6 linked regions of the Homo sapiens genome follow. The protein of the gene in region 1 purifies or fractionates together with the protein of each later gene. This does not show direct contact. Each region holds a gene or a part of one and is shown on either strand. Other genes may lie near its edges. The genes, in order: TCF25, AMD1, STAM, SLC25A25, XPNPEP3 and LIPA.

Region 1 (5,503 bases):
TGGGAGCTGGGAGGTGGGAGCTGGGAGGTGGGAGGTGGGAGCTGGGAGGTGGGAGCTGGGAGGAGGGAGGCGGGAGCTGGGAGGTGGGAACTGCGAGGAAAGAGGTGGGAACTGGAAGGTGGGAGGAGGGAGCTGGGAGGTGGGAGCTGGAAGGTGGGAGGTGGGAACTGCGAGGAAAGAGGTGGGAGCTGGCAGGTGGGAACTGGGAGGTGGGAACTGCGAGGAAGGAGGTGGGAACTGGAAGGTGGGAGGTGGGAGCTGGGAGGTGGAAACTGGAAGGAGGGAGGTGGGAGCTGGGAGCTGGAAGATGGGAGCTGGGAGGTGGGAACTGTGAGGAAAGAAGTGGGAACTAGAAGGTGGGAGGAGGAAGCTGGGAGGTGGGAACTGGGAGGAGGGAAGAGGGAGCTGGGAGGTGGGAGCTGGGAGGTGGGAACTGAGAGGAGGGAGGCGGGGTTGGAAGGTGGGAACTTGGAGGAGGGAGGCGGGAGCTGGAAGGTGGGAGCTGGGAGGAGGGAGGCAGGAGGTGGCAGGGGAGGTGAGAGGAGGGAGGCGGGAGCTGGGAGCTGGGAACTGGGAGGAGGGAGGAGACAGGGGCTGTAAGGTGGGAGGCGGGAGCTGGGAGGTAGGAGGTGGGAGCTGGGAACTGGGAGGAGGGAGGCGGTAGCTGGGAGGTGGGAGGCGGGAGCTGGGAGGTGGGAGCTAGGCGGCGGGAGGAGGGAGGTGGGAGCTGGGAACTGGGAGGAGGGAGGCAGGAGCTGGGAGGTGGGAGGCGGGAGCTGGGAGGTGGGAACTGGGAGCTGGGAGGTGGGAATTGGAAGGAGGGAGGAGGGAGGTGAGGTGGGAGGTGGGAGGAGGGAGTTGGGAGGTGGGAGCTGGGAGGTGGGAGGTGGGAACTGGGAGGAGGGAGGCGGGAGCTGGAAGGTGGGAGGCGGGAGCTGGAAGGTGGGAGGCGGGAGGTGGCAGGTGGGAGGTGAAAGGAGGGAGGTGGGAGGTGGGAGGAGGGAGCTGGGAGCTGGGAGGTGGGAACTAGGATGAGGGAGGCGGGAGCTGGGAGGTGGGAGCTGGGAGGTGGGAACTGGGAGGAGGGAGGCAGAAGCTGGGAGGTGGCAGCTGGGAGCTGGGAGATGGGAGGTAGGAACTGGGAGGAGGGAGGTGGGAGGTGGGAGGAGGGAGGTGGGAGCTGGGAGGTGGGAGGTGGGAGGAGGGAGGTGGGAGCCAGGAGCCGGGAGCTGCTAGGTGGGAGCTGGGAGCTGGAAGGTTGGAGCTGGGAGGTGGGAGCTGGGAGCTGGGAACTGGGAGGAGGGAGGTGGGAGCTGGGAGGTGGGAACTGGAAGGAGGGAGGTACCTCTCTGGCCTGACGTAGGAGTAGATTGTGTCCGAAGGAGGCAGAGGATCAAACCCCATCACAGACTGCGTGGTCACGTCCTTCAGAAAGGGACATAAAACGAAGATGCTACAGATGCTGCCAGGGGGCCTCTACCTCTCCCAGCAGAGTCCTTCTGTCGACTCCAGCATGGACTGGATGCATCTGCTGAGAGATAGCCACAGAGTCTGACAGAAACGGCTGTGCTTTTTGTACCAACGAGCTTTGGGTGAGGGTGGGACAGTCCTTCTGCCACCAGGACACTCACGGGAGTCGAGATGAACCTGCACGGCGTCTGCCCTGCACACCAGAGTGTGTGGTGGGGAAGGAAGGGGGTCACGTGCCGCTCAAGCCTGCCAACATCTTCACCACGTGTCAGAAGCTCCCACTTCAGCAAATGCAGGCTACAGGGACCCTGAGCTGCCCTCGGGTTGCACAGTGCCACGTGCTGCCACTCTACTGAGGAGAGTCAGAAGCTCACAGCCCCAGACAAAGCCAGCCATGCCGGTCATAAGGGCCCGCAGAGCAGCTGAAGTTAAACCAGGAGGCACTAAGCTGTCCCCAGTGGACGGTCCACGGTCCTGCGACCCTCTGACTTGCTGGTTTTCTCACTCGTTCTATCTTATCCCTTAACAACAGTACAAACTCCTTAGGTTTTGAGACAGAAACGGCACCTCCAGCACAGGAGGCGTCAGAGCAGGACTACACCCCACGACTACAGAGAATCCCCCAGCAGCCGCACCACGCGCTCACAAGACCACGGATGGAGCAGCTCACCACGGTGACGACTCAGCTTGTGCTCTGAGCCCCAAAGGATTTCTCTCTCAAAACAACAAGCATCCGAACCCGGGCTGCCAGGAAAGGAGGAGCCCTCTGCACTAGACCCTGCCCCTGCCGTGGCGGGGCTGGGCTGCTGAGGGAGCCCGCACCACGCACGCCTGCATGTGGACCGCCCGGAGCAGAAGGGACGTGCATGTGACCGGCTTACACAGAGCTCCCATTTCAGCCTTTCTCCCTTACCGGGGGCAGGGCAGCGACGGCTTCCTTGATCTCAGAGAGGATCACATGGCGGTGGATATTCCTGGGTGCACGCTGGTAGAGCACCTTCCGCCTAGGGCCGGGGAGAAACAAGGCACAGCAGATAAAGCACAGCAAATGAAATGGTAACCGCCATGGAGCCTCGGCCCCCACCCCCACCCAGCACGAGGCATCTCGCTGCATCTCTGGTGGCTGCAAAAACTGTACACTTTACTCTCGAGCAGAGGCACCATGGCTGGTCCCTGGCCTGCGGCTGGGGAGCCTCTGGGGACCAATCCCAGCCACATGGCCAGTGACTCAGCCTCTTCATCCAAAGAACAAGAACGATGAGAGCCGTAGCCAGTGGCTTCTTGTGGGAAGTCACTGAGTTCATCTCCATGAAGGGACACCTGGGTGTGTCACCATCGTCACTGCTACGGCTACAGGCACAGGCACTGGTCCCTGCTGGAAATCGCTCTTGGAGAGCAGTACAGGGAACAAAATGCTCCTGTCCATGAGAATGTCCAGTCCAGTGGGGACAGCAGACACGCGGACGGGCCCATGACTGCCAGCGGCTGGGGGCACCAGCGCCTCTTGGGCACCCCCGGGCACACCTCATGTCCGCGGCACACAGACTTCACTGTGGAGATGCAAATGGGCACCACTCCCAGGCGGTCCTGAGCCTGGCCACACCACTGCACAGAGCCACGGTGCTGATGCACAGAACTAGCACAGGGCCAAGGGCGCAGACAAACGAGACAAGAACAGCAAGGGGATGCCTGTCAGTTGCAGCATATTAGGGCATGAGCCTCCGAAGTGTTCACACACAGGACAGGAGACTCTTTCTCGTCTCTGCCAGATTTCTTTACTCCCAAGATGCTGCTGTGAGAGACTCGTCATCATCTCACAGCTCATGTGGAAACACTGCAAGACCCGAAGGCACCACTCCAGCCCGAGGCACCCGGGAACAGCAGCTCGGTACCCTGCGCTGATCACCACAGCTGCCTCCCAGGAAGCCTCTGGGACACGCCAGGGGCTGTGCGCTGTCTTGTAGGCTCCACACAGGCCCCACAGCAAGGGAGGCCAAGCTGCTCACAGCCCTTCTCGCCTCCCGAATGCGAGGCCCCCGTGTCTGGGATGAGGGTCCCTGAGGAGGGGGCGTGGCAGGGCTTGTGTCAACCCCTAGCTCACCGGTTCTCACAGGCTTCCACGGCTGGGTCCCCGGCGTCCACTGCTTGCAGAACCTCGTGGACGTTCTCCTCCAGCCAGCTCATGGTGGCGGGCTCTTTCCAGAGAAAGTGTGACCTCCCAAGGTACAGGTTCACCAGCTGGCTCAGGGCAGGGGGCTGGCTGGGGGAGAGCAAGGGCTCTGAGCAGAACCCCTCTTCAGACCACAGCCTGCCTCGAGGCTGGCAGAGCCCCATGGATGGGCAGACGGGGGGTCCAGGGAGTGCCCTGTGGCCTGGAGTGAAAGGAGGCCCCTGGGCTGCTGGCCTGAGGGCGTGGGGCTGGGGCACACAGGTATGTGCCGTGAGCCTGTTGGGCAGGTTATGTTCTTTAGGAAGCAGGACTGACGTCACAGAAATGTGAAAATGCACCCAGGGCGGGTCCATCTGCGTGCACACAGGGCGAGCCCTGGAGGGCCAGGGGATGACCCCAAGGCGTGCACTTTCTCCTGTGTTTGCTCCCTCTTTGTTTATTTTGTTTTTTGAGACGGGGTCTCACCATCACCCAGGCTGGAGTGCAGCAGCACAAACACAGCTCACTGTACCTTTGACCTCCCAGGCACAAGCCGGCCTCCCAAAAAGCTGAGATTACAGGCATGTGCCGCCACGCCTGGCACCCTCTTTATATGAGCCTCGTTTTTAAGCTGGAGGCTGCTCAGCTGTCCCACCTGGACTTTTCCACACAGATGAGGGCTCCAGAGCCGTCCCATGTCAAATGACAGTCCCCGAGGCCGCCACCACAGCCCCTCCTGCTGCTGGAAGCAGGTCCCTCAGGGCCTCTCAGGATGAGTGAAAATGGCTCCCAGGCTCCGAACCCACAGGCACCCACAGATGGGCACCACCAGCCACTCTTTACCTTATTTCAGCATTGGGTCCAAAGAAGCGGTGACTGGAAACGCTGGCGTCGGGCCGCACACTGCAAGACTCGAGCAGGGGCAGGAGGACTGCAGGGGAAGCGGAGGCTCTGTGGGGGCCCTCAGCACACACCCCAGCCACTCCTAGCCCCCAAGGCAGTAAGGGACACAGCGAGGTCCTTGTCACAGACACAGCTGTTCTAAGGTGGAGAGTCTGCAGGGCCAGCGGCTTGCTTCCGGGTGGTATTCTGAGTTGCTGCTGCTGGCGTGCCCAGGGTCTGAGGCTGGGGGTCTCCTTCACACCAGCCCCAAGGAGGCTGCCAGGGCCCCCATTTGCATCCAAGGGAAGACTCACCCACCACCCTCCACACACATGGGGTTGGGTTTTTTTTTGTTTTTCTGAGACAGGGTCTCACTCTGTTGCTCAGGCTGGAGTGCGTTGGCGAAATCTCGGCTCACTGCAACCTCCACCTCCCAGGCTCAAGCGATTCTCCTGCCTCAGCCTCCCGAGTAGCTGGGATCACAGGCGCACACTACCACGCCCCGGTTAATTTTTGTATGTTTAGTAGAGACAGGGTTTCACCATGCTGGCCAGGCTGGTCTTGAACTCTTGACCTCAGGTGATCCACCTGCCTCAGCCTCCGAAAGTGCTGGGATTACAGGCGTCCGCCACCACACCCGGCTAATTTTTATATTTTTGGTAGAGAAAGGGTTTCACCGTGTTGACCAGGCTGGTCTCGAACTCCTATGCTCAAGCGATCCTCCTGCCTCGGCCTCCCAAAGTGCTGGGATTACAGGCGTGAGCCACCGTGCCCGGCCGGTTGGATGTTTTAATCACAAAGACTGGACCCCATGGCAGGCTGGTGGGAGCGGAGGCCACCTGTGCCCAGTGGAAGAGCCAGCACTGCAGGTTGAGGGCAGAGGCCGCCATGTAGGGGAACGGGCCCCGAGGGCAGAGCCTGCAGTGATCTCCAGTGTTCTGGGGTAAGTGGCAGCGGCTTCTTGGCAGCCCACCTGCCTTCAAGGGAGGTGCTGACGCTACA
Region 2 (5,503 bases), on another chromosome or scaffold:
ACTGGTCCATAACTGCTGGGTCAAGCTCACTCATCAGAATTTCCAAGGTTTGATCTGGCTGACTGATTACCCGACTCTCTGGGAAATCCAGAGTATATAAGTACCTAAATAAAAATTAAAAATAGTTCCTAAAAATGACAATTGGCAGTTTAAATCTTACATAGGACAACAAAAATCCACAAAATTGCATTAAACATACCAACAGTCAGAATTCATACGTCCCATACAATATGCTGCTCCATCTGTTGAGGGAAGAGAACGCAAAATAAATATAACACATCCATTTAATAGGATGGTTTGTTACTACCCTTCCACAATAAGCAGAATGATACTATTTGCCACTTATTAGAAATGTCATCCATCAGTGGACTGGGCATAGTAGCTCATGTCTATAATCCCACCCCTTTTGGCAGGGAGGCAGAGGTGGGCTTGAGGTCAAGAGTTCGAGCCTGGCCAACATGATGAAACCCCATCGCTACTAAAAATACAAAAAGTAGCTGGGCGTGTTGGCACATGCCTATAATCCCAGCTACTTGGGAGGCTGAGGCAGGAGAACTGCTTGAACCCGGGAGGCGGAGGTTGCAGTGAGCCAAGATCACGCCACTCCACTCCAGCCTGGGTGACAAAGCGAGACGCCATCTCAAGAAAAAAGAAATGTCATCAGTGAAAGGAATGGAAACAGTAGGTAAATTCCCAGATAAGCAGGATCGACTGACTTGGCGGGTATTTGCAGTAAATACCCAACACTCTGATTAGCCTGGTTTGGTTTCATATTAGTAGATGTGCTAAGTTCAATTTTCATGCTTATGAGCGACTTTGTGCAAAGTTACTAAATTATCTTAGGTTTTCAGCCTTATCTAGGAAGTAAGGATGTTATCAGATAACCTTTGTTCCCTGACCTCTATAAATAAAAGCTTAGTAAATGGATGAAAGAAACCCTTACGAATTTCATTCAAGAAACACTAATTTACACTGTGCAATTTTAAAAAGCCAGGTCAATTATTATATAAAATGCTGGAGCAGAGCACTAGGCATTTTTCTGAAGGGAATCATATCCTTCTTCATATTGTCAAAGGACATTATGATCTGTATGTTAAGAACCACTGAGGCTGGAGGACTGCTAGAGGGCAGGAGTTCAAGACCAGCCTGGGCAACACAGCAAGATTCCATCTCTACTAAAAATAAAATAAAAATTAGCTGGGTGCTTGAACTCAAGAGTTTGACAATGCAGTGAGCTATAATGATGCCACTGCTCTCCAGCCTGGGAGACAAAGTGAAACTTGTCTCAAACAAAAACGCAAAAAGAACCACTGAGTGAGACATAAAGTAGAGTGAATGGCCAGATGAAGATGAACTCTCTCTATGCTGTATGAAAAATCAGAGGTGGCAGGTGATCAATTCTACATTTTAAAATTCCATCATTTAAACAGCACTGATTTATGATACACAATTATTTTTACATGTGTATACATAATTTGCAATAAGCTATTAATCTTAACTAAAAATATTTTATCTGATATTTTAATGTTCTTTATAAATTCTGCATATTTTGAATTACAAGCTATATAAAGATCACTACTGTACTCCCAAAACATCTAAGTCAAAGTAAATATGGACCAGGTGCAGTAACTCACACTTGTAATCCTAGCACTTTGGGAGGCCAAGGCAGGTGGATCCCTTGAGCCCAGGCGTTCAAGACCGGCCTGGGCAATATGGCAAAACCTTGTCTTTACTAAAAATTAAAAAAAAATTAGCCAGGTGGGGTGGCAAACATCTGTAGCCCCAGCTACTTGGGAGGCTAAGGTGGGAGGATCACTTAAGCCTGGGATGTTGAGGCTGCAGTGAGCTGTGATCACACCACTGCACCAGCATGGGTGACAGAATGAGACCCCTGTCTAAAACAAACCAAAAAACCCACAAGAAAAGCAAGTATTAGTGTGTGTAGAATGCTATATATGCATAAGTATGCTCTCATATAGAAAGATCTCTGAGGTTGCACTTTCTATCTTTAAGAAGACAACAGGTTTATATTTTATTTAAACTTACTTGGGAAAATTGCATTAAGAAACTCTATTTCTTCCTGGAAATTCCGGTGTGGGTACCCTTGGTGAGAAGGCTTCATGAAATTCTTACGAGAATAAAAGAAGCTCTTTATTAAAAAAGAAAAGAAAGAAAAAAAAAGATGACTTTAGATGTAGAATTCTATCACTTTTCGAAGCTAATCAACTATTGTCCACATATCAAAAACTCGGCAAAATCAAAACTCAAATATTTTAGCTTGGCATGGTAGCATATGCCTGTAGTCTCGCTATTAGGAGGCAGGAGGATCACTTGGCCCAGGAGTCCAGCCTGGGCAACATACTGAGGCCCCATCTCTCTCTCTCTCTCTTTTTTTTAAAAAGCCCAGTCTAGTGATGATGGGTCATAACAACTATTAACACCAAGTATATTCCTTTCTAGAACAGTAGTTTCTAAACTGAGCTTATTAATAGTCATATAAGCAAAAATTTGGGGGGAATAACATATTAGTTTTAAGCATCGGTTAAGCACACATTGCTTTAGATTTCTTACAAGGATCAATTCATAACAACAAAAACTGTATTGAGTACTAATGACAATCCATCCTTTCCTTATGAAGTTAAAGATTAAAATTCAGGCCGGGTGCAGTGGCTCACGCCTGCAATCCCAGCACTTTAGGAGACTGAGGTGGGTGGAACACCTGAGGTCAGGAGTTAAGAGACCAGCCTGGCCAACATGGTGAAACACCGTCTCTACTAAAAATACAAAAAAAATTAGCCAGGCATGGTGGTGGGCACCTGTGATCCCAGCTACTTGGGAGGCTGAGGCAGGAGAATCACTTGAACCTGGGAGGTGCAGATTGCAGTGAGCTGAGATCGTGCTATTGCATTCCAGCCTGGGAAACAAGAGCGAAACTCCATCTCAAAAAAATAAAAAATAAATAAAATGTAACAACTGCTAATCAGAAAATTATACCCTAGGTAAAAACACCTTAGTTCTTGAAAAGTATAAGAATTTAACTCAATACTGACTGTTGCTCTTCATCCTAACTCTTCATTATAAAGACTGGACAATTTCAGTAACGACATTTTTCTTGCTTTTCCTTCTTTTCTTACCATTTCTCTATTATTATAAGTAGCCATGTTAAGAAATTAACTACTGGAAGTGTCTGGCTTCTTCATTTCTTTCTCCCATTTGAATTTCATCCTAACTCATTCTCTGCTTCCTATTTTCTGCTGTTCTTGAGAATCAGATCTCTTCCTAAGGTATGAACACCTTACCACGTGTTTGCATGCATTGTAACAAAGGCAGTAAGTATATAAATTTATTTACTTCGCATATTACAGGATAAGAACGCTAACATTTATGCCTGAAAAATATTTAAATGTTTGCTTACTTACTTGAATTGAGTCAAACCCACTGTAATCCCTAGCAAGCTTCAACAGGGGAACCAGTGCTTTCAGCAAGAGGGTGGTACCACATGTCTTCAAAATGAAACGTCTCTTGGAGACAAACATGCTACTCTCACTGCAGTTGAAAAAAGTCACAATATTATAACAATACTAATGTACTACTGAGGGTGCAATCAACCAATTTAATTATCATTTACAATTTTGGCTAGTACTTTTAAATATTAGGATCTCAAGGAAGCAAGTAACACATTATTCTTTTCCTTTTCTAGTATACAAAACATCCCCAGGGCTTGGCACATGGTAAGCATTTTGATAAACATTCGTATATTCATAATATAAACTTAGTTTAAAAAAAAAAAAGAGAGAGGCCAGGCACAGTGGCTCACACCTGTAATCCCAGCACTTTAGGCGGCCGAGGTGGATCACCACGTCAGGAGTTCAAGACCAGCCTGGCCAAGATGATGAAACCCCGTCTCTACTAAAAATACAAAAATTAGCCGGGCACAGTGGCAGGCGCCTGTAATACCAGCTACTTGGGAGGCTGAGGCAAGAAAATCGCTTGAACCTGGGCGGCAGAGGTTGCAGTGAGAGGAGATTGCGCCAATGCACTCCAGCCTGGACAGACTGAGACTCCGCCTCAGAAAAAAAAAGGGGGGGAGGGGCTGTTTAGTCCAGTATCCCCCAGCAAGGCCCATCACAATATATACTATAAGCATTAAAAGTATTTATGGAATAAATTAACTCTGCAACTACAAAAAAGGTGATGAGCTTTTATATACCAATTAGACAACTGTATTTGTATAGAGAAGCTAACTTTCCCTTTGCCTGAACTTCTAATTAAGAGGTCCTTCTTTACCAATTGGGAGGAAAAGACGGCAAACACCTTGAACTGTCCGGTGAGGCTTCAAAACCTATGTCCTAGAAACATCCACGTTACACTAAATGTTTCCTTTTATACCATATTTTTAAGAATAATGTAAAAAAAAGGCTGGGCGCGGTGGCTCACGTGTATAATCCCAGCACTTTGGGAGGCCGAGGTGGATGGATCACCTGAGGTCAGGAGTTCAAGACCAGCCTGGCCAACATGGTGAAACCCCGTCTCTACTAAAAATACAAAAATTAGCCGGGCATGATGGAAGGTGCCTGTAATCCCAGCTCCTCAGGAGGCTTAGGCCGGAGAATTGCTTGAACCAAGGAGGCGGAGGTTGCAGTGAGCTGACATGGCGCCATTGCACTCCAGCCTGGGTGACTGAAACTCCGTCTCAAAAAAACAAAACAAAACAAAAAAACCCCCAGAACTACAACTGAGAGGAACTTAACTGTTTCACATTATGATTAGGACTGAAATTAGCTACCTAACACTTGTTTTACAGGACTTACCTGAGTACATAAGCTTCCTGCTTGTCAGTTTTTGTCACACTTATGATTGAACATTGCACATCCTTCAAAAGTATGTCCCACTCAGATCTATCATTTAACAAAAAAGTTACGATTAATCCACAATAGTACCCACCTACTCATAAAAATTACAAAGCTCACACTTTTTCTCATGAAGACCACATTTTTAATTAATATTGTACACCAACTTTTAGTTTCTTTCAAAATAATCTATATTGACACACCCAGATAAATGATAGGTATATTATGCTATATATGAAACAAAAATTGGTCATTATACTATGTATTTACAAATTACTTAAAGAAAAATAGGCAAAAAAATGTTCAAAGGTCCATAAACCAAGGTAAACCATTAACTAATCAATGATTACAGAAATTCAATGGGATACTTTGTCTATAAAATGTGCAGATTTTTAACCTTAAGAAACACTTAAAAAAAAAGAAGAGCATAATTTTACCAATCTAATTGGCATAGAAATTTAAAAGCCTGTCTGTCGGGACACAGTGAGTGATGTTACTCTTATAGCACTCACAAAAAACTGGAATGACTGCCAATTACAAGCATACCTAGAAGATTTTGGGAATACTACGCAGCTCTCCAAATGCAATGAGAAAGCCCGTTTAACAGGAAATGTGCAGTACAAGCAACCATAGCAATGAAGGTCATATGGACA
Region 3 (5,503 bases), on another chromosome or scaffold:
AACAGTGCACAAGTGTTTCAATTTCTCCACATCTTTGTCAACACTTACCATTTTTTCTGTTTTTCTTTATAGTAGCCATCCTGATGGGTGTGAGGTGGTATTGAGATCGTCTTTTTTTTTTTTTTTTTTAATGTAGGTGCTTATAGGTATAAATTACCTTCTCACCGTTTTACTACACCCTTAAGTTTTCTTGGGTTATGTTTTCCTTTTCATTAATCTCAAAGTATTTTCTAATTTCCCCTGTGATTTTTTTCATTGACCCATTGGCTATTTAGGAGGATGTTGATTTTCACGTATTTTAATTTTCTATATTTCTTTGTTCTTTCAGATTTTATTCTGTCTTTGGAGAACATGCTTTCTATGATTTTTTATCTTTTTAAATCTGTAGAGACTTGTTTTATGGCTTAACATTGTTTATCATGTGTAATATCCATATGCCCTTGAGAATAATATATTGTATTATTTCTAGTTCAAATAATTTATAGATGTTGATAATGTATTGTGTTATTAGAGGAAAATATATGTCATTTTAATCTGATGATTTAATATTTTGAGGCTATCCTTTTGACTTATATAAAGAGCTCCCTGTTTATGTTATCTGAATTTATTGGGAGGCATATCTGTGTCCAGAACATAGCATGTTTAAGTGACAGGTATGAATCTTGTTAGTGCCTATTACTGCCTGGTAACTGGCATCATGGGCAAGGAACTGAACTTCAGTAAATGGAGGACTTGGTTTGCTGTGAATGTTTTGAACACTGAATGAGTCCTTTGCTTATTATATAATTTTTGAGAGCCTAAGCACATGATGTTTCGTAGGTTATATGAATGATTACTCTGCTTTACTATTATCATTAATTACCATAAAGCATCCCCATGAAATGCATGTTTGCTACATTCTTGGCCTGTCATTTAAATAGATCTGTTTTTACTGACCTGTGATTTATCTACAACAAAGAGCATCCCTTGTATGTGTATGGTTTGATAGTTTGATGAGTTTTGACAAATATATATACCTATATAAGTATCACCCCAACCAAGATAGCATTTAATCACTCCCAAAAGTTCCTTCCACCTTATGCAAGTACTAATATGCATTGTCACTATAGATTAAATTTCCTTTTCTAGAATTTCATAAAATGAAATAGTATTGTCAGTACTCCTGTGTCTAGCACTAAATGTGTTTCTAAGATGAATTCAAATTTTTGTATGTATCAATATTCCTGTTTCTTGGGGAAGAGGTATTACATTGTGTTAATATATTACAATTTATCCATTCATCTGTTGATGGGCATTTGGATTGTATCCAGGTTTTGACTCTGAACAGAGCCTCTGTGAACATTCTTATAAAGAGTACTGGGTAGTATGCTTTCATTTTCATGTCCTTAAGGGAAATTATGGTTCTGTGATTTCATTTGTTGTAAGCCTTAGATATTTGTTATTTGATTTCCAAATATTTGGGTATTTTTATGCTATCATTTTGTTATCAATTTGTAGTTTAATTTTGTTATGGTCAAAGAATGTACTTTGTATGACTTTAGTCCTTTTAAATTTATCAGTGTTTGTTTTATAGGACAGAATGTAGTCCATTTTGTTGAATTTTCCATGCACATGAAAAAAAATGTGTATAATGCCATGGGTGGGTGGATTGTTGTGTAATGCCAGTCAGGTCAAGTTTCATGATAGTGTCATTCAGGTATTCCATATCAGTACTTTTTTTTCTTGTGTTATCAAGTCATTGAGGGGGCATGTTGAAGTTTCCAGTAGATTTGTCTGTGTTTCCTTTCGGCTGTATCGATGTTTCCTTTATATATTTTGAAGTTCTATTTTTGTGTTCATGCACATTTAGAATTATGTTTCCTTGGGGGACTTAACCGTTTTATTATTATGTACTGTCTCTCTTTATCCCTGTTAGTATTCCTTGTTATGAAAACTGCTAACGGTAGTGAATAGATAAAAGTGTAGTTGGATTACAATCTTAATCTGCCATTTTTCTAGATGATTGGTTATGTTTCTTCTGTTTTCTCTTTCTGTCTTTTGTGTATCAATCAAATGGTTTTTATGGTTTTATTTTTTTGATTTAAAACTTTGTTTTGAGACAGGGTCTCACTCTGTCTCTCAGGATGGAGTACGGTGGTGCCATCACAGCTCACTGCATCCTCGACCTCTGGGGCTCAAGTGAACCTCCCACCTCAGGCCATTCACTGCGCCCATAGGAGCTGGGACCATTTCTGGCTAATTTTTGTATTATTTTTTGTAGAGATAGGGTTTCACAGTGTTGCCCAGGCTGGTCCCAAACTTCCGGACTCAAGCCATCTGCCCACCTCGGCCTCCCAAAATGCTGGAATTATAGGTGTGAGCTGCTGCACCCAAGCTATTTTATTTTCATTTTTCTCTTAAAAATATTTGTAGTGGTGGCTCTGTGTTAAATTTTTTCATTTTTTTTCTCTCTGTACTTCAGTTTGGGTACTTTCAGCATATTTTCAAATTTACTGATCTTTCATTCTTACCTGATTAATTCCATCCACTTTTTAATTTTACATATTTTTTTGTCTCTAGACTTTTATCTGGGCCCTTTTTAATATATTTCTTCATCATTATGTGGATGATTTCCAGCATGCTTATAATAGCTTATATAAAGTCCTTGACTGCTAATTTCATCATCTTTGTTATTTCTGCATTCTCAGTTGACTGAATTTTCTGCTAGTTGTGTATGGTAGTTTTCTTCTTCATATCATGTCTTCATATCATTTTATTGAATGCTTAGTACTTTGAATTTTATATTTTTGAGCATCAGGTGTTGTATTCCTGTTAAGGAGTATTGGACTTTATTTTTTCAGAAGTGGTTACATTCGTCTGTGGCTTATGTTGTTAGGCAGTATGTAGGTATGATTGAGCTGCATTGCTAGGGTCTAAACTCCCCTGTATATCCACTGAATCCTCTGGATTTTCAATAGATGCTTCACTGTGGCCTCATCTCTGACGACTGTGTGAGCGTTGGATCTCTTTAGCATATCGCCCTCGGTCACTTTTTGACCAGTTTCATGGAGTTTTTCACCTGTGCATGCGTGGGTTTTTCAGAAGGTCTTCACTGATACTTGGAAAGTGCCTCTAGGCAGAAAGTTGAGGCAAACTTCTGGCTTATCTAATTCATTTTCCTTCTTGGATATTATCATTCAGTACTGCCTGTGGCCTCATGTCTTTAAAAAGTTAACCTCAGTGTGGAAAATCTGTTTTTCCAGTTTTCTAATTGTTTACAACGGGAGTGTAAGTCTGGTCTGTTTTTCCACCCTGGCTGGAAGTGGAAGTCATGGCCTACCATTTTATTTTCAAACCTTTTTTTTTTTCCTACCCAGAATTAGCCTGAAATGCCTCATCTACGATTACTAATAAGAGAGCCTGTTAATTTTGTTTGAAAAATTTAAAGGAACTAGTTTACAGTTTTTCAACCGTGTTATTAATAAAAATTAAATTTCCCTACTTTATCATAGTCTCCCTTTTTATCGTAGTCTTTTGTCTATAACAGTTAAGGGGCAGGGGGAAGCTAGATGTATTATTAAGTAATTTTTACTTTTCTCATTTTTTTAGACCTAAGGATTGTCTTCGGTCTATTATGAGAAGAGTGAACCACAAAGATCCTCACGTTGCTATGCAGGCTTTGACTGTGAGTGGTTTCATTTTAATCTGTACCACGAAATTACCTGCCACAATTGAGCCCCTTTAACTTCTGATTTTGTGCTTTTAGCTTCTAGGAGCATGTGTATCAAACTGTGGCAAAATTTTTCATTTAGAAGTATGTTCAAGAGATTTTGCTAGTGAAGTAAGCAACGTATTAAATAAGGTAAGGAGCATTATTTCCAGAAATTAATTAAGGCAGTCTTCTTTCTTCACATATTTTATTGTTTAAATCTTCACAGAGGACTATTCTGTGCTTTTTAAGAAATCCTTTCTAGGCTGTGTCTATCCAGTATATAAATAAATATTATGTTTTGTTGAAGAGACTGCGGATTCATGTAACTTTGAGTTAGTTTTTTCAAGCCATATTAGAGTGTTTTTAACCTGTTCTTTTCCATCATACTTTCATCTGATAAGAAAACAGGTATTTCTATATCTAATTAAATAATATCAGTCTATTTTACATACTGTTTTTGTAGGCACAAGGTATTTTCCTAATGGAAAACCTTTCAGAAACACTGCAAAAAGTCTATGGCACCGTTGAGTTTTTATCTTTATCAATAAGGCTGCTTCCTGGCCATCACAGGATTTTAATACTATACTGCTATTCTTACTGGCTGAACCCACAGCTGGAGTTGCCTCAAAAGTGGTGGCGGGGGAGTTTCCACAAGGGACTGCCCCAAACTGTTCCAGATAGGGCCAGATGAGAGTCCAAAAAAAGAGGCACTAAATGCCAGGGTGATCAGTCTAAAGGATTTATTAGGGGAACTTACACAGGAGGGCTGCAGTTTATAGGAGGGTTTAAGGAATTTGGCTCAGGGTTGGGGCTGGTTTCTGTGTGTTTAGCAACATACTTGATCTTTTAGTGTTTTGGGCCACAACCTGAACAACTTTATCAGTGCCTGAGAATGTTCAAGGCCCCAGTTTGGGTCCAAACCTATGGTGGAAAACATGCAGCTGGCTAGGTCACAGAGCGGGACAAGGCACTCTGTTTTTCTATTGGGACACAGAAAGAAAGCAGGGAGAACTGGGGACCCTACAACTGCCCACTCAACTGTAGAATTCTAGTCACACAGTTCAAGAAATTTTTCAATTTTCAATTAGTAATATGTGAGTTTCCCCAGTAAAAATTTGTGCATTCTAAAAGTAATTATTTTTGGCCTTTTTAGGGGGAGTACTGTAAATCAAGAAAAAGTTTTTGTATGTTAAAAGGGAAAATGCCTCATGTTTTTGGGAAAAATGAATAGTTCCAGGTTACAGTAGAAAAATAGCAGTATAGAAATATAGTAAGAATGTAAAATTCTGTACTTTTCGAACATCATGGTTAAATGATAATTCTTTCCCTTTCCTGCTTTATGCAGTTAATATTTATTTTCTACTAATTAATAAACATTGTCTTTTAATGTCCTGAATGTCCATCGAGATTACAACTGTTTATGAAGAGATTCTAATACCATGTTTTTTGTAATGTAGGTGAAAAATGTGGTATACTTACCTATGTATAATAGTGCAAGCAGCCATTTCCAAAAACGACTTCCTATAGGCAAGAGGACTTCTCTTTATTTTCTGAATGTTTTACAGTGAACATATTGGTTTTGTACTTAATAACATCCCGCCTTTTTTTTTTTTTTTTGAGACAGTGTCTCTCTTTGTCACCCAGGCTGGAGTACAGTGGCGTGATCTCAGCTGACTATAGCCTCTGCCTCCCGGGTTCAAGTGATTCTCCTGCCTCAGCCTCCTGAGTAGCTGGGAATACAGGCATGCGCCACCACGCCTGGCTGGTTTTTGTAGTGTTAGCAGAGATGGGGTTTCACCATGGGGATGGTCA
Region 4 (3,500 bases), on another chromosome or scaffold:
CCCAGTCCTGGGCTCTTTCTATGCTTTATCTAATTTAACCCACACACCCCCCTTATGCAGTAGGTCCTCATACCAACAAGTTTCTGATAAGGAAACAGACTTGGAGAGGGTGAGTCATTTGTTCAAGGTCACTCAGCTAGCAAGCAGCAGAAGGAACATTTGAACCCAGGTCTCATACCATACAAATCACCCTTTTTTTTTTTTTTGAGACAGAGTCTCACTCTGTTGACCAGACTGGAGTGCAGTGGCGCAGTCTCGGTTCACTGCAACCTCCAACTCCCAGGTTCAAGCAATTTTCCTGCCTCAGCCTCCCGAGTAGCTGGGATTACAGATGTGTGCCACCATGCTCGGCTAATTTTTGTATTTTTAGTAGAGCTGGGGTTTCTACATGTTGGCCAGGCTGGTCTCGAACTCCTGACCAGCCTCCCAAAGTGCTGGGATTACAGGCATGAGCCACCCATTTAAAGTATACAGTTCAGTGGTTCTCAGTATCTTCACGGATATGTGCAACCATCACTCCAGTCAACTTGAGAATATTTCCAACACCTCAAAAAGAAACCTCATCTCACCTTCCTATCTCTCTACCCGCCAGTACCCCACTCCCAGGTAGGCAAGTACTACTCAATTTTCTGTCTCTGTAGACTTCTCCATTCTGGACTTTCACCTAAATGGATCATACAGTGCATGATCTTTGCGACTGGCTTTTTTTTTTTTTAAGACGGAGTCTTGCTCTGTCGCCCAGGCTGGAGTGCAGTGGCGCGATCTCGGCTCACTGCAAGCTCCGCCTCCCGGGTTCACGCCATTCTCCTGCCTCAGCCTCCCGAGTTGCTGGGACCACAGGCGCCCGCCACCGCGCCCGGCTAATTTTTTTTGTATTTTTAGTAGAGACGGGGTTTCACCGTGGTATCGATCCCCTGACCTCGTGATCCACCCGACTTGGCCTCCCAAAGTGCTGGGATTACAGGCGTGAGCCACCGCGCCCGGCCGCGACTGGCTTCTTTCAATCAGCGTAACATTTCCGAGGAAAGTCTGTACTATAAACCCCATGGGTTATTGTCTCAGCTAAGGGAACTGTAAGGTATGGACAGCACGTCACCTGAGAAGTGCATGATGATACCTGTTTTTAGCAGCAGCAGAGATTATAGGAAGATAAGACCACAGATTTCAGATAAAGGGCCCTTGGATCACTTTTCTGTCTTGCTCCTGAAGGTACACATGGGGCAATGGGCAGCAGCAGATACAAGATTTCAGTCTAACATGACAGAGAACTCACAGTGACTCCAATTAGGTTCACAATAGAAAGGGCGGATGACCATCTGCGAAGGATGCTTCCGGAGAGCTTATCTCCATGTTGGGTGGAAGGCTGGCTAGTGACCATGATGGCCCGTCACCCATCCAAGACTAAATTCTATGGTTCTGCCAAATTCGCATTAGTATAATTAATGGTTAAAAACAAAAAGTTAGGGCCGGGTGTGGTGGCTCACGCCTGTAATCCCAGCACTTCGGGAGGCTGAGGCGGGTGGATCACGAGGTCAGGAGATCGAGACCATCCTGGCTAACATGGTGAAAACCTGTCTCTACTAAAAAATACAACAAAAATTAGCTGGGCGTGGTGGTGGGCGCCTGTAGTCCCAACTACTGGGGAGGCTGAGGCAGGAGAATGGCGTGAACCCAGGAGGCAGAGCTTGTAGTGAGCTGAGATCACGCCACTGCACTCCAGCCTGGGCGAGAGAGAGAGACTCTGTCTCAAAAAAAAATAAAAATAAAAATAAAAATAAAAATAAAAATAAAAAAAAAGTTAGGCTGGGCGTGGTGGCTCATGCCTGTAATCCTAACACTTTGGGAGGCCAAGGCGAGAGGATCACATGCGTTCAGGAGTTCGAGACCAGCCTGAGCAACATAGGAAAACCCCGTCTCTACAAAAAATACAAAAATTAGCTGGGCATGGTGGTGCACACCTGTAATCCCAGCTACCTGGGAGGCTGAGTGGGAGGATAGATTGAGTCTGGGAGGTCAAAGCTGCGGTGAGCTGTGATTGAACCACTGAACGCCAGCCTGGGTGACAGAACAAGATTCTGTTTCAAATAATAAATAAATAATAAAAAGTTGGCTGCCAGGCACATGTCATCAAGACCCCTGAGGCTGTGTCACAGGCATAATAAAATAAAATAAAATAAAATAAAAAGTTGGCTGGGTACAGTGGCTTAGGTCTGTAATCCCAGCACTTTGGGAAGCCGAGATAAGAGGATCGCTTGAGCCCAGGAATTCAAGACTCAGCTGGAATAGAAATGAAGAAATGAATACCAGCAAAATATTTGTTTCTATCATTCCCTTGTGGGGATGTGAGACTTCAACAAGTAATAACTCTTTTTTGTTTTTTTTCTTTTTGAGACAGAGTCTCGCACTGTCACCCAGGCTGGAGTGCAGTGGCGCGATCTCGGCTCACTGCAACCTCCGCCTCCTGGATTCAAGTGATTCTCCTGCCTCAGCCTCCCGAGTAGCTGGGATTACTGGTGCACACCACAACGCCTGGCTAGTGTTTTTGTATTTTTAGTAGAGATGAGGTTTCACCATGTTGGCCAGGCTAGTCTCGAACTCCTGACCTCAGGCAATCTGCCTGCCTCAGCCTCCCAAAGTGCTGAGATTATAGGTGTAAGTCGCCACACTTGGCCCCCATTTTCTTTTCTTTTCTTTTTTTTATTTTATAAAAAACAGAGATGGGGGTCTCGCTATGTTGCCCAGGCTGGTCTTGAACTCCTGAGCTCAAGCGATCCACCCATCTTGGCCTCCCAAAGTACTAGGATTACAGGTGTGAACCACTGCATCTGGCCAGTAATAACTCTTTGAACATCAAAAAAATTCATCTAGTTGAAGCTCCAGATCAGACAGGCTCGTGCTCTCTCATTCTCTATTTATATCTATTTTGAGACAGGGTCTTGTTCTGTTGCCCAGGCTGAAGTGCAGTGGCACAGTCTCTGCTCACTGCAACCTCAGCCTCCCAGACTCAAGCGATCCTCCTGCCCCAGCCTCCCGAGTAGCTAGACTACAGGCATGGGCCACCATGCCCAGCTAATTTTGTTGTTGTTGTTGTTGTTGAGATGGAATCTCACTCTGTCTCCAAGGCTGGAGTGCAGTGGCGTGATCTTGGCTCACTGCAGCCTCCGCTGCCCGGGTTCAAGCAATTTTCCCTCAGCCTCTTGAGTAGCTGGGACTACAGAAAGGCATACGCCACCATGCCTGGCTAAGTTTTGTATTTTTAGTAGAGACGGGGTTTCACTATGTTGGCCAGGCTGGTCTCGAACTCCTGACTTCAAGTGATCTGCCCACCTCAGCCTCCCAAAGTGCTGAGATTACAGGTGTGACCCACTGTGCCCAGCCAATTTTTGTATTTTTTGTAGAGACAGGGTTTCACCAAGTTGCCCAGGCTTGTCTCGAACTCCTAGGTTCAAGCCATCTGTCCACCTCAGCCTCATAAAGTGCCATCATGGCCAGCCTCATAT
Region 5 (5,503 bases), on another chromosome or scaffold:
AAGGCTAAGACCTACTGGGCTACATTCCCAGTAAGTTAAGGCAGTCTTAATCACAGAATGAAATAGGAAGTCAGCACAAAATGCAGGACACAAAAACCCTGCTAATAAAACAGGTAGGTTATAGTAAAGAAGCTGACCAGCTGGGTGCGGTGGCTCATGCCTGTAATCCCAGCGCTTTGGGAGGCTGAGGCGGGCAGATCACCTGAGGTTGGGAGTTCGAGATCAGCCTGACCAACATGGAGAAACCCCCTCTCTACTAAAAATACAAAATTAGCCGGGCGTGGTGGTGCATGCCTGTAATCCCAGCTACTCAGCGGGCTGAGGCAGGAGAATGGCTTGAACCCGGGAGGTAGATGTTGCAGTGAGCCAAGACCCCACCATTGCACTCCAGCCTGGGCAATAAGAGCGAAACTCCACCTCAAATAATAATAATAGTAACAATAATAATGAAAATAAAATAAGTCCCTGTCAAATTTAGACACTGCGAACATCTTCTCCTAGACTGTCACCTTCCTGTGAGCTTTACCTGTGATGTTCTTAAAAAAAGGAGCTGGCCAAACCCCACTAAAACTAAGATGGCAATGACAGTAACCTCTGATTGTCCTCACTGCTACACTCCCACCAGCACCCCAAGAGTTTACAGATGCCATGGCAACGTCAGGAAGTTACCCTATATGGTCTGAAATGGGGAAGCATGAATAATCCACTTCCTGTTTAGGATATAATCAAGAAATAACCATAAAAATGGGCAACCAGCAGCCCTTGGGGCTGCTCTGCCTATGGAGTAGCCATTCTTTATTCCTTTACTTTCTTAATAAACTTGCTTTTACTTTACTCTGTGGATTCCACTGAAATTCTTTCTTGCACGAGATCCAAGAACCATCTCTTGGGGTCTGGATTGGGACCCCTTTCCGGTAACAGCAGGTTCTCAGTATCTGTTTGTGGAATGCCTAGAACCTAAACTCTTTAAGTCCTAGTCCGAGAAATGCAGTAGAGTGGAATGAGAACTTGAAATTAGACTCAAGTTTAAAAATCAGATTTTTCACTAACAAGCTATGTAGCCTTAGACAAATTACTTTCTCTCTCAGAACGTCTGTTTTCTTATGGGCATAAAATATTTATTTTGCTAGAGTGCTGTGTCAGTTAAATGAGCACTTGCTACAGTGTGACTCAGAGGGTACTCAAATAATTTTCGACATTATTGGTTATTATTTCCAGTGGTAGGCAAATTATAATCATGGGTAAGCCACACATAAGTACATGTAAGCACATACACTGGAGAGAATTTAAATTGAGTTTTAAGCATTTCACAATACCTCTAAAAAATGAGTATATATAAAAATGCAAAGCAAAAAAATATTCAGACCTGACAAATGGTCTTGAAAGACTAGAAGCATACACTACAGTTTTAGATTTCATTAGCGTATCATTTAACTGAGGGGTTATAAATGTGATGGAAAATAAAATAAACACAACATAGAGGAGGAAAAACAAAGATTACAGGGAATTTTCTCAGACAATAAAATGAGCCAGGTATAGAATATAAGACCTTTAAATTCGGGTCTAGACTACTGGTAGTTTATCCCCAAAGAAAATCACCTTTGGTCTGTTTCTAATTTGGCTCTCGAATTCTACTTTCCCATACATGACTGAATTTCCAAATAGTAGCCACTGATCCATTACAAATGTAAATCACATCATTAAACTTGCATATTCCCCACTCCCCACAAAGGCTTCCCACTGTACTTGAAATAAGTGCTAGCTTTATGTCCAACAGCCCCAACTGGCAACAACCAAAATGTCCATCAACATGGCCAGTGGCTACCATATTAGATCACTATGTGGCTGACTGTCATATAGGTCTCAGCAATAATGTCATCTCCTCAGAAGCCTTCTAAAACCAATCTAAAGTAGCGCTCTGCCCCCAGCACATTGCTATTTTTTTTGGAGCACATATCGCATTATCTTAAATTATTTTATTTGTTCTCCTATTTGTATTCTATTATAATGCAAGCACCAGGAAAACTGGTGTCTTTTGTTCAATACTGCTATCACCAGTGGCTAAAACGGTGCCTGGCACAAAGTAGACAATCAATAATTATACAGTGAATACATAAACACACAACTTTCCAAATCTTTAATTACATGTTTTACAGCAGTAAACCTTGGGTGGACAAAGATACTATAATCTCAAATGACTTACCACTGGCATGCAGAAAGTTAACATATCAGGCTACTTCCTCCAAGAGGCTTTCATTGACACCCCCAGCCTGAGCTGTCTCTCATATAATTGTTTAGCATCCAGTACTTCCTCTCATCATAACTATTATATTGTAACTAAGTTACTTGTTTGTATCTCCCTCTGAACTGTTTCTTGACTGAAATAAATATGTCAACTGTTTGAATACTTTCTTCACCCGTAAGTCAGTACTTCATTTTTCTAAACCAAAGCATAGAAGAGCTGGGAAGCAATTAAGGCGCAGTAATCTAGAGGTCATATTATGCAAGGGATATGCTGTGGCTATTAGCAACAGATTCCATTGGCTTATGAGGCACTGCCTGAAGCTTCCAGGGAAACATACAGGGGAAACAGTCCAGAGGATTCAGGATGGTCTGGTACGACTCTGGACTAGCTCTATTTGGAAGGTCCAGTCCCTACACTGACCCCAGAATGACACCATAATGCAGCCCTCTCTGACATATTTGTAACTCTGCTTGCCACATAATCAGTATCCTCATCTCTTAGCACATGGTAATAACATTGTCTTTAACATAAAAGTGTACCTATTTGCAGTCACTACCTCTATCACCACCACCAGCAGAGCCTGAGCTGAGGAAACCACGGTTCTCAATACCCAGCACACCCACTTCCAACTATCTGTTAAAACATGGTGGATTACTATGAAGTTCTAGGACTGCAAAGATATGCTTCACCTGAGGACATTAAAAAAGCTTATCATAAAGTGGCACTTAAATGGCACCCTGATAAAAATCCAGAAAATAAAGAAGAAGCAGAGAGAAAATTCAAAGAAGTAGCTGAGGCATACGAGGTATTATCAAATGATGAGAAACGGGACATTTATGATAAATATGGCACAGAAGGATTAAACGGAGGTGGAAGTCATTTTGATGATGAATGTGAGTACGGCTTCACATTCCATAAGCCAGATGATGTTTTTAAAGAAATTTTTCATGAAAGGGATCCATTTTCTTTTCACTTCTTTGAAGACTCGCTTGAGGACCTGTTAAATCGTCCAGGAAGCTCCTATGGAAACAGAAACAGAGATGCAGGATACTTTTTCTCCACTGCCAGTGAATATCCAATTTTTGAGAAATTTTCTTCATATGATACAGGATATACATCACAGGGTTCATTGGGGCATGAAGGCCTTACTTCTTTCTCTTCCCTGGCTTTTGATAATAGTGGGATGGACAACTACATATCTGTTACAACTTCAGACAAAATCGTTAATGGCAGAAATATTAATACAAAGAAAATTATTGAAAGTGATCAAGAAAGAGAAGCTGAAGATAATGGAGAGTTGACATTTTTTCTTGTAAATAGTGTGGCCAATGAAGAGGGCTTTGCAAAAGAATGCAGCTGGAGAACACAGTCATTCAACAACTATTCACCAAATTCTCACAGCTCCAAACATGTATCTCAATATACTTTCGTGGACAATGATGAGGGAGGTATATCTTGGGTTACCAGCAACAGAGATCCCCCTATTTTCTCAGCAGGAGTCAAAGAGGGTGGTAAGAGGAAAAAAAAGAAGCGTAAAGAGGTGCAAAAGAAGTCTACCAAAAGGAATTGTTAAATTGACTCTTCAAATATATAACATTTGAACACAATTGTGTGTGTTTTGGTTAATCACAAATTTTGTAGATAACACTTAATACTATACTAAGAGCTTTTCAACACTTTTAGCAGGATTGTGGACATTTGGTTAGTAGTTTTTTTGAATGGGTATGTCAGAAAAGGATGAGTTTGTGGTGACAGTTGGTGCTAATAAGAATTTGCCTGGGCAGTATAGTGAGATCTTTTCTCTACAAAAAATTTAAAAATTAGCCAAGTGTGGTGGTGTGCACCTGTAGTCCCAGCTACTCGGGAAGCTGGTAGAAAGACTGCTTGAGCCTGGAAGACATAGGTTGCAGTGTAATGGGATCACGCCACTGCACTCCAGCTTGGGTGACAAAGTAAGACCCTGTCTTAAAAAAAAAAAAAAGGAATTTGGAAAACTGCAATGAGTTTTTTACTTTTGAATTTTTCTTTAGTAGAGTTTATAGCCTATTTTTCTTTTTTCTAATTAAAACCACTATACAAACTTACGAAACATGCATAGCATTAGAAGACAAGAATGTATCAAGACACACAGGTTCAGACTACACAATTATTCATGAAATGGCTGTTTTCCAATGGAGGAACAGCATTTGATGCATTATAACTTAAAGGTACTACAAATTAAAAATTAAAGTATAAAGTATTTTAAGTTAGAAATAGACTTAGCTGGGTGCAGTGGCTCACACCTGTAATCCTAGCATCTTGGGAGGCCCAGGCAGGAGGGTTGAAGTCAGAATTTCACGACAGTCCGGGTAACATAATGAGACCTGTCCTCTATGAAAAAACTTTTTTAAAAATTTAGCTGGGTGTGGTGGTACGTGCCTGTAGGCCTAGCTACTTAGGAGGCTGAGGTGGGAGGATTGCTTGAGCCCAGGAGTTTGAGGTTGTAGGGAGCTATGATCTTGCCATTGCACTCCAGCTGAGAGTGTGACCCTGTCTCTAAAGAAAAACTATAGAAAATTTAAAAAATTAAAAAACGGGTAACATGGTAAATTTTATGTAGTATATTTTACCACATTTTTTTTAAAGGCCAGTCTTATCCTGAATTCCTCAGAGCAGTCTGTATGGTAGGCCATCAGTGAATCACTCCAGACAGGAAATTTTCTATTTTTGTTTAGAGTTTGTACACAAAATCTACAAATACATTACTCTAAAATAGCACCTATAGCCATTTTAATTTAGTCATGTTGGGAGAAAAATAGATGGGTTACAAATACATCAGATATCGAGCAAATGGTTTGAGTTACATCTAGCAGCACTAAAACTTATTCAACTTTGGCCAAATACAAATGCGAAATTAGAAAAAAATTATAATATCTGCTATTTTTAAAAGACAGCTATAGTCAAGAGCTTGTGTTTTGTATCGGTATTTGATTTTTAGTGGGCAGATGGGAGAAGGAAAGGTTATTTATTCTATAGAAGAGACTGCGGACAATTAGTATTCAAAGTTTATTTTCAGAAAATAAAATAATAAAAGCCCAGGGTATTTTAAATGCTTCTAATATAAGATGTGATATTTAGTAGAGTTTATCTGTTATCATGCATGTGGTAGTAAAGTTGAAAAAAAAATTGCAATTTTCCAAAAACTAAAGCAAAAATCAGTGTCTCAGAAAATTTAAGAATGTAATGACATGCCCTGTAGTCCATTTCTTCACTCTTAAC
Region 6 (5,503 bases), on another chromosome or scaffold:
AATCATTTGCCCTAGGACACACAATTAGTATACGATGCAGCTGGGAATCAAACCCAGGTCATGTGACAAATGTGCCCATCATCTCCATGCCAAATTGCCTGTCTTCCCTGCCCCTCTCTGCCACCACGGCCTGTCCTCAGACAGCTTTGCAGCACAGCAACTTGAGTTCCAGAGCTTCACAGTTGAGCGAATTTTGGGAAATTATCCAGCTCTCATCCAAAATTCTCCCTCAACAGAAGGAGCAGAGGGTCCACAGAAGAAAGCACCTGCAGGGGACACAGGGCTAGAAATGACACAGTGCTTGTCACCTGACCCCCAGACATAGTTCTATGACATTTCTTACTTTTCTTACTTCTGTCCATTGTAAACAAATGCATCTTCCTCCTGTCCACACAGTTTAGAATACATCCCTGTCATGGAGGGCTTAATCCTGAAGAAGTCAATATCAGAGACCACCATCAAATCCATGTTGACATTTCAAAATTAAAAACAGAGGCTGGGCACCATGGTTCATGCCTGTTATCCCAGCCCTTTGGGAGGCTGAGGGAGGATCATTTGAAGCTGTAGTAAGCTATGATTGTACCACTGCATTCTAGCCTGGGAGACACGGTGAGACTTTTAAAATATTTATGTATTTATTCATTAATATTTTAAATAAATAAATGTTGTAAAAGAAATTGTATCACCTGCACTTACTATACTGCATATATTTCACAGGCCTTATCAAATTTTCACAACAGCCTACGAAGTAGCCAGTATTATTCTTCCTGTTTAATAATTGAATAAGTCAAAACTTCAAGAGGTAAAGAAAATTGCCAAGGTCACACAGCCAGTTAAATAGTAGAGCCAGAACTTACACCCATGACTGGTGGCTCTTCACATGCTCAGCTTAATCATGAGGCAATACAGCTTCAAGTTTTACCCACCACAGGAAGCATTTAAGTTGTGTTCGTGGACTCCTAGGAGCCCAGGAGTAGGAAATCCTTCATGCAGTGTGCCCTTGAGCAGGGGACACTATTAAATCGCAATGTCACAGGAGGGCTGCAGGAGCATGCTTGGGTAGACTGCAGCCTGGAGCTAAAGCAATTTACCAAGTAAAGAGAATCAGAAAAGTCTTCATCCCCGCAGAGTCTGGTGGGGATGACAGAGGTCACACACATCATCACCTACATAATAATATATTGTTTATTGTCTTAATTGCGATGGAGAAAAACACAGAGGACTATAAGAATATGTAGCCAGGGGCCTGACCTGGTGTGAGAGGCTGAGGAAATCCTCCCTGAAGATGTGAAAATTAGGTTGAGAACAGAGGACAGGTCAGAGCGGTTAACCAGGAGGAAGAGGAGGGAAGGGGACAGGGCAGAGCACTATCTTCCTTTCCACTTGGCTTTCTGCTCTGATCCCAACCTGGGTCTATGAGATAAGCTGTACAGCTGACCTCACTTATGCTGCTCCATTAGGCAAAGGTTCTGAATGCAATCCCCTACCCAATGCGCCATCAGAGTGCTACATGAGCCTGAGCTCAGCCCAAGTCACCAAGCTCAGGCATTGATTAATGAAACCATGTCTGTTCGGCACCACCAGGGGTGAGGAATTACATCCCAGATTACCAACGCCTATGTGTAGCCCGTTAGAGCACTGCAGTGATTCAAAAAATAGTTTCTTTAGAAGTGAAGGATTTTTCTATAAGGAAAGAAAAATCTAGAAATCAACCAGAATTCTAAAATAAACAATCAAAGCAAAATACAAGCTGATGGTCTCCTTCTAAAGACTTAACTCACAAGCCACGCTGTGAATTTTCAGCTATGACTCTAATAGCTCAATGGACAACCCCTGGGGAATCTTTGCTGAGGCCACAGTTGAAAAGCCTGTTTCTGCATGCTGAAGGCAGTCATTCCAGGCTTTCACAGTCTAGAGTGCCACTTCACCCACTCGGCAATCAGATGCATAACTTTCAGATACAAATGTGCCACTCTTGGTGTGTGTATATATATATAAAATATATATTGTGCCTATCATGGCATCAACTTGGTTAATATTTATTATGTAAGGCCACATTCTCCAGTTCAAAGATCACTGAATCTGTAGTCAGACAGGTCAGGACATGACCCTCTGCCCTGAGACAAATTCATTTCCCTATTTGAACCTGGCTGTCTTATCCAACAAAATGAGGATGTTAGTCTAGAACACAGGTTGCCAAAACCAAGAATTCTACCTTGGAATCCACCAGTGAAGTGTGTTTAAAAAAAAACAAAAATCCCTAGCCCAGGCAGGAATCTGAGATCCCTCCAGTGCTAACTCCCCATGACTTTCTGAAATAAGGCTGAGCAGATGAAAACAGAGCCACTTCCCTATGAAGTGTAATTTCTGAATTTCAATTCCCTTCAGGAGCAAAGCATTGCTCAACACTTCCTAAGAAGGTTGCTTAATGGTGGGAAACAGCATGCACATACTGCACGAGTAGCCAAGGGCTACTACTGTGCAGAATGGAGGTGAAAGGTACAAATACCAGCTGGACAGAATATTTAAGGAACAGTGTGTATCTTCATTTCTGAGACCCCTAAAGATTGCTGAATGGCAATTTCACATCATTATAGCTAAGCTTTAAGAAACTTAATCCTGCAAAACCACATAGGATGAATGAGAACAGGAAGCCTGGCAGAGAAAAGAGCAGTTAGGTAAAGCCTTTAAGCAAACATGAGCAGAGAAGCCATGTGGCCAAGCCCTGTGTTCATAAAAAAAACCTGATCTCCAAGTGAGGCTACACAGTCAGTCAAAGAGGCCCATGGCAACAGGACTGAAAGATGCTCACCATTCAGCTGTAGACTCAGGTTCCACAAGGAATGTGGTACCAAAAAATGAATAATGTTTTAATACATTTTGTAATTACTTGTAAATAGTATGAATGTATAGCAGTATTTTTGTGTGTATTAAAAGCATTAATTTCTTAAACTATATAAGCAAACTGAATTTCCATAATCCTGTCTTGAAATTCTTTCTTTCTGTTAGTATACGAGGAGCCTTGAAAATGGAAATGGCTCAAGACTCTCTCAGCTGCTGAGCTTATTTCAGGCGCCCAGTTAAGTGGTAACAAGAGCCTAATGTAGGCTGGTGGTCAGGGAAACAGAAGAAAAAGATGAACTGAAGCAATTTAACGTGGGTGGCCTAGAGAGGACCCGTGGTCAAGAATGATTCTGCAGATTCCAGGCTAGGTCATTAGGAGGATGCTGGTGCTATTAATAATAGAGGAGGAAGTCAGGAGGGGAAGCGGGATGCATGAGAAGAGGACGCGTTTCACTTTGGGTGTGAAAGGCCTTCTCCATTCTTTTTATCTATTTGCCTTTAAACACCGGAAATAACACCAGTGGCAACAACCTTGCTCTTGAATAGGAGTGAAGGACAGTAAAGAGCCTCTGTCCATGCTCTGTTTTAGAATGTGGAAATGCAAACCATCAGGAAAGCGCCTATGCAGTTCTTAGGAAAATCACAATTCCTTTAGAGAACTGAGTTGTTCACTGTAGACTTCCTTGAAGACTCCCCACTGAGGTTAGCTCATAGCAGGTATGACATACACATCAGTGATCCCCTACAGGGAGGGCCTCTCAGAATAGAGAAAGAACATGAGGACCAAATGCTATGAACAGATTTAGCTTAGAGTAAATACTTTCAGTCTATATTCCCCCATTCTAAAGACCTAGACTCTCCACTCTCCCAATCCCCAACCCTCTTGCCAAAAATAAAATAAAGTATATATAATATATCCCACAGAGGTTAAAAAAAAAAAAGAAAAAACAAAGCACACAAGAAGTCAGGGGCAAACCCAGGTGTAGCACCAAGGTCCCATAAGTCTCCTTTCTATTACCTGGGAGCATATCAAGACTCATGCTCACTTTCTTCATATTCCAGGGCACTGCACCTTCCCCTGCAACAGTGTGATACACACAGGTAGGGCATGTGACTCTGAGTGTTTTAACCACTGTATGGAGAGAGAAGTCTGAAGCTGGATATAGGAGGAGAGCTCTCAGCAAGTTTTACTGAGATGCTTACCATCATTTAACAGTGATTCACGTTACTAATTAATCAACTATAATTTTAAGAAAAATAATATAAAGCATTTTTCTTTATACAGTGTCTGAAATCAGTATACAGGGGTTATTCTTTGGGGGAAAAAAAAGGAAGGAAACCAAGATCATATGCTCGCTCTAGCATAAAATATATGTTTTGAGTGTTTTGAGCACAGGAAAAACTAAAAGCTCTCACTATAACTCATCACTCATTTTATAACATATTTATAAAAAGGAAGCTTAATGGCATATATCTGTAAAGCATAAAAATCTCAAGAGTTAGAAATCAAATTTCAAAAAAAATGGTTGTCGTGGCCACCTAAACATTATTAAAATCTTATTACAGCTAGAACACATGGAAGAAAAAAGTTAAACTAGGATAAATTAAGAAAAAACAAAGCAAATAATAATACAATGCTCACATTAACACAAAGGGTGTTTAAGTTTGCTTTGAATAACAATTTGGGCAGGAATTGAGGCAAAGGTGGCTCTTTTGCCCGTATAACACTTAAATTGAAGAATAAATAGCTATCTAACTACCTTAATCTAAACCTTAATTTCCCCAAGAAAAGTCTCCAGAAACAAAAAAATGTTAGAGAATAAGCTACATCTTACTTGAACCTGGGAGGCGGAGGTTGCAGTGAGCCAAGATTGCACCATTGCATTCCAGCCTGGGCAACAAGACCGAAAATCCGTCTCAAAAAAATAAATAAATAAATAAGCTACATCTGGAGAGATAATTGAATAAAGATTAGATCCTTCTTCTGATAACTGCTTAATAATTTCAATCAGTCTGTCTAGAAATTCCTTTATCTGCACTGGAAACTGCAGTTTTGCTTGAGTTATAAAATGAGAGAGAGAAAAAAGATATACATATATATGTATATATATACTTTTTAAGCCAAAGCTACAAGAACTTTCATATATTCATAGTGATAGTAATTATCAGGACACATGCACATGAAAATCAGCTTGGCAATATATATCAAAATCACAAATGCATATATCCTGTGATCCAAAAATTCTACTTCTGGACATGTATCATGTAAATAAACTTGCACACACAAAAGCTTATTTACAGCAGCAATATTTGTTAACAGAAGACTGAAATAGCACAAATATGCATTAATAGGACACTTGGTAAATAAATAATGATACAGTCATATAGTGAAATATCATGCACTTCTGGAAGATGTGCTTTATGTATTGTATGGAAAGATCTCCAAGATATTAAGTAAAAAATTCAAAGAACAAAATAGTGCCATCTTTTGCATTCAAATGGAGGCAAGGGAAAAATAAGAATCTGTGTGTGTATTTGTTTCTAATGAGATTTTTGGAAATAAAAAGATTTTAAAATGAAGTTATTTCAAAAAGATACACAAAAAAGCAGGAAGTAGGGAGTGAGAGAGAAGGGAGGCATTTCACTGTATGTCTTCTAA

Evidence for each region.
Region 2: the proteins of TCF25 (region 1) and AMD1 purify together in Homo sapiens (affinity purification with mass spectrometry; one large-scale study listed by BioGRID and IntAct). This does not show direct contact.
Region 3: the proteins of TCF25 (region 1) and STAM purify together in Homo sapiens (affinity purification with mass spectrometry; one large-scale study listed by BioGRID and IntAct). This does not show direct contact.
Region 4: the proteins of TCF25 (region 1) and SLC25A25 purify together in Homo sapiens (co-immunoprecipitation; one large-scale study listed by IntAct). This does not show direct contact.
Region 5: the proteins of TCF25 (region 1) and XPNPEP3 purify together in Homo sapiens (affinity purification with mass spectrometry; one large-scale study listed by BioGRID and IntAct). This does not show direct contact.
Region 6: the proteins of TCF25 (region 1) and LIPA purify together in Homo sapiens (affinity purification with mass spectrometry; one large-scale study listed by BioGRID and IntAct). This does not show direct contact.

What each region holds. Positions count from the first base shown.
Region 1 is NC_000016.10:89,903,165-89,908,667, reverse strand, and holds part of TCF25 (ribosome quality control complex subunit TCF25), read right to left. Parts: intron 4,551-5,503; coding exon 4,463-4,550; intron 3,731-4,462; coding exon 3,572-3,730; intron 2,475-3,571; coding exon 2,384-2,474; intron 1,426-2,383; coding exon 1,346-1,425; intron 1-1,345. UniProt on the Homo sapiens protein: Component of the ribosome quality control complex (RQC), a ribosome-associated complex that mediates ubiquitination and extraction of incompletely synthesized nascent chains for proteasomal degradation.
Region 2 is NC_000006.12:110,886,900-110,892,402, reverse strand, and holds part of AMD1 (S-adenosylmethionine decarboxylase proenzyme), read right to left. Parts: intron 4,899-5,503; coding exon 4,812-4,898; intron 4,068-4,811; exon of another isoform or gene 3,997-4,067; intron 3,547-3,996; coding exon 3,420-3,546; intron 2,150-3,419; coding exon 2,047-2,149; intron 243-2,046; coding exon 200-242; intron 105-199; coding exon 1-104.
Region 3 is NC_000010.11:17,681,087-17,686,589, forward strand, and holds part of STAM (signal transducing adapter molecule 1), read left to right. Parts: intron 1-3,588; coding exon 3,589-3,664; intron 3,665-3,745; coding exon 3,746-3,841; intron 3,842-5,503. UniProt on the Homo sapiens protein: Involved in intracellular signal transduction mediated by cytokines and growth factors. Upon IL-2 and GM-CSL stimulation, it plays a role in signaling leading to DNA synthesis and MYC induction. May also play a role in T-cell development.
Region 4 is NC_000009.12:128,074,732-128,078,231, reverse strand, and holds part of SLC25A25 (mitochondrial adenyl nucleotide antiporter SLC25A25), read right to left. Parts: intron 1-3,500. UniProt on the Homo sapiens protein: Electroneutral antiporter that most probably mediates the transport of adenyl nucleotides through the inner mitochondrial membrane.
Region 5 is NC_000022.11:40,859,380-40,864,882, reverse strand, and holds part of XPNPEP3 (xaa-Pro aminopeptidase 3), read right to left. Parts: intron 5,335-5,503; exon of another isoform or gene 4,206-5,334; coding exon of another isoform or gene 4,102-4,205; exon of another isoform or gene 3,819-4,101; coding exon of another isoform or gene 2,889-3,818; exon of another isoform or gene 2,111-2,888; intron 1-2,110. Other genes in the region: DNAJB7 (dnaJ homolog subfamily B member 7), read left to right, coding at 2,889-3,818. UniProt on the Homo sapiens protein: Catalyzes the removal of a penultimate prolyl residue from the N-termini of peptides, such as Leu-Pro-Ala. Also shows low activity towards peptides with Ala or Ser at the P1 position.
Region 6 is NC_000010.11:89,239,820-89,245,322, forward strand, and holds part of LIPA (lysosomal acid lipase/cholesteryl ester hydrolase isoform 1 precursor), read right to left. Parts: intron 1-5,503. UniProt on the Homo sapiens protein: Catalyzes the deacylation of cholesteryl ester core lipids of endocytosed low density lipoproteins to generate free fatty acids and cholesterol.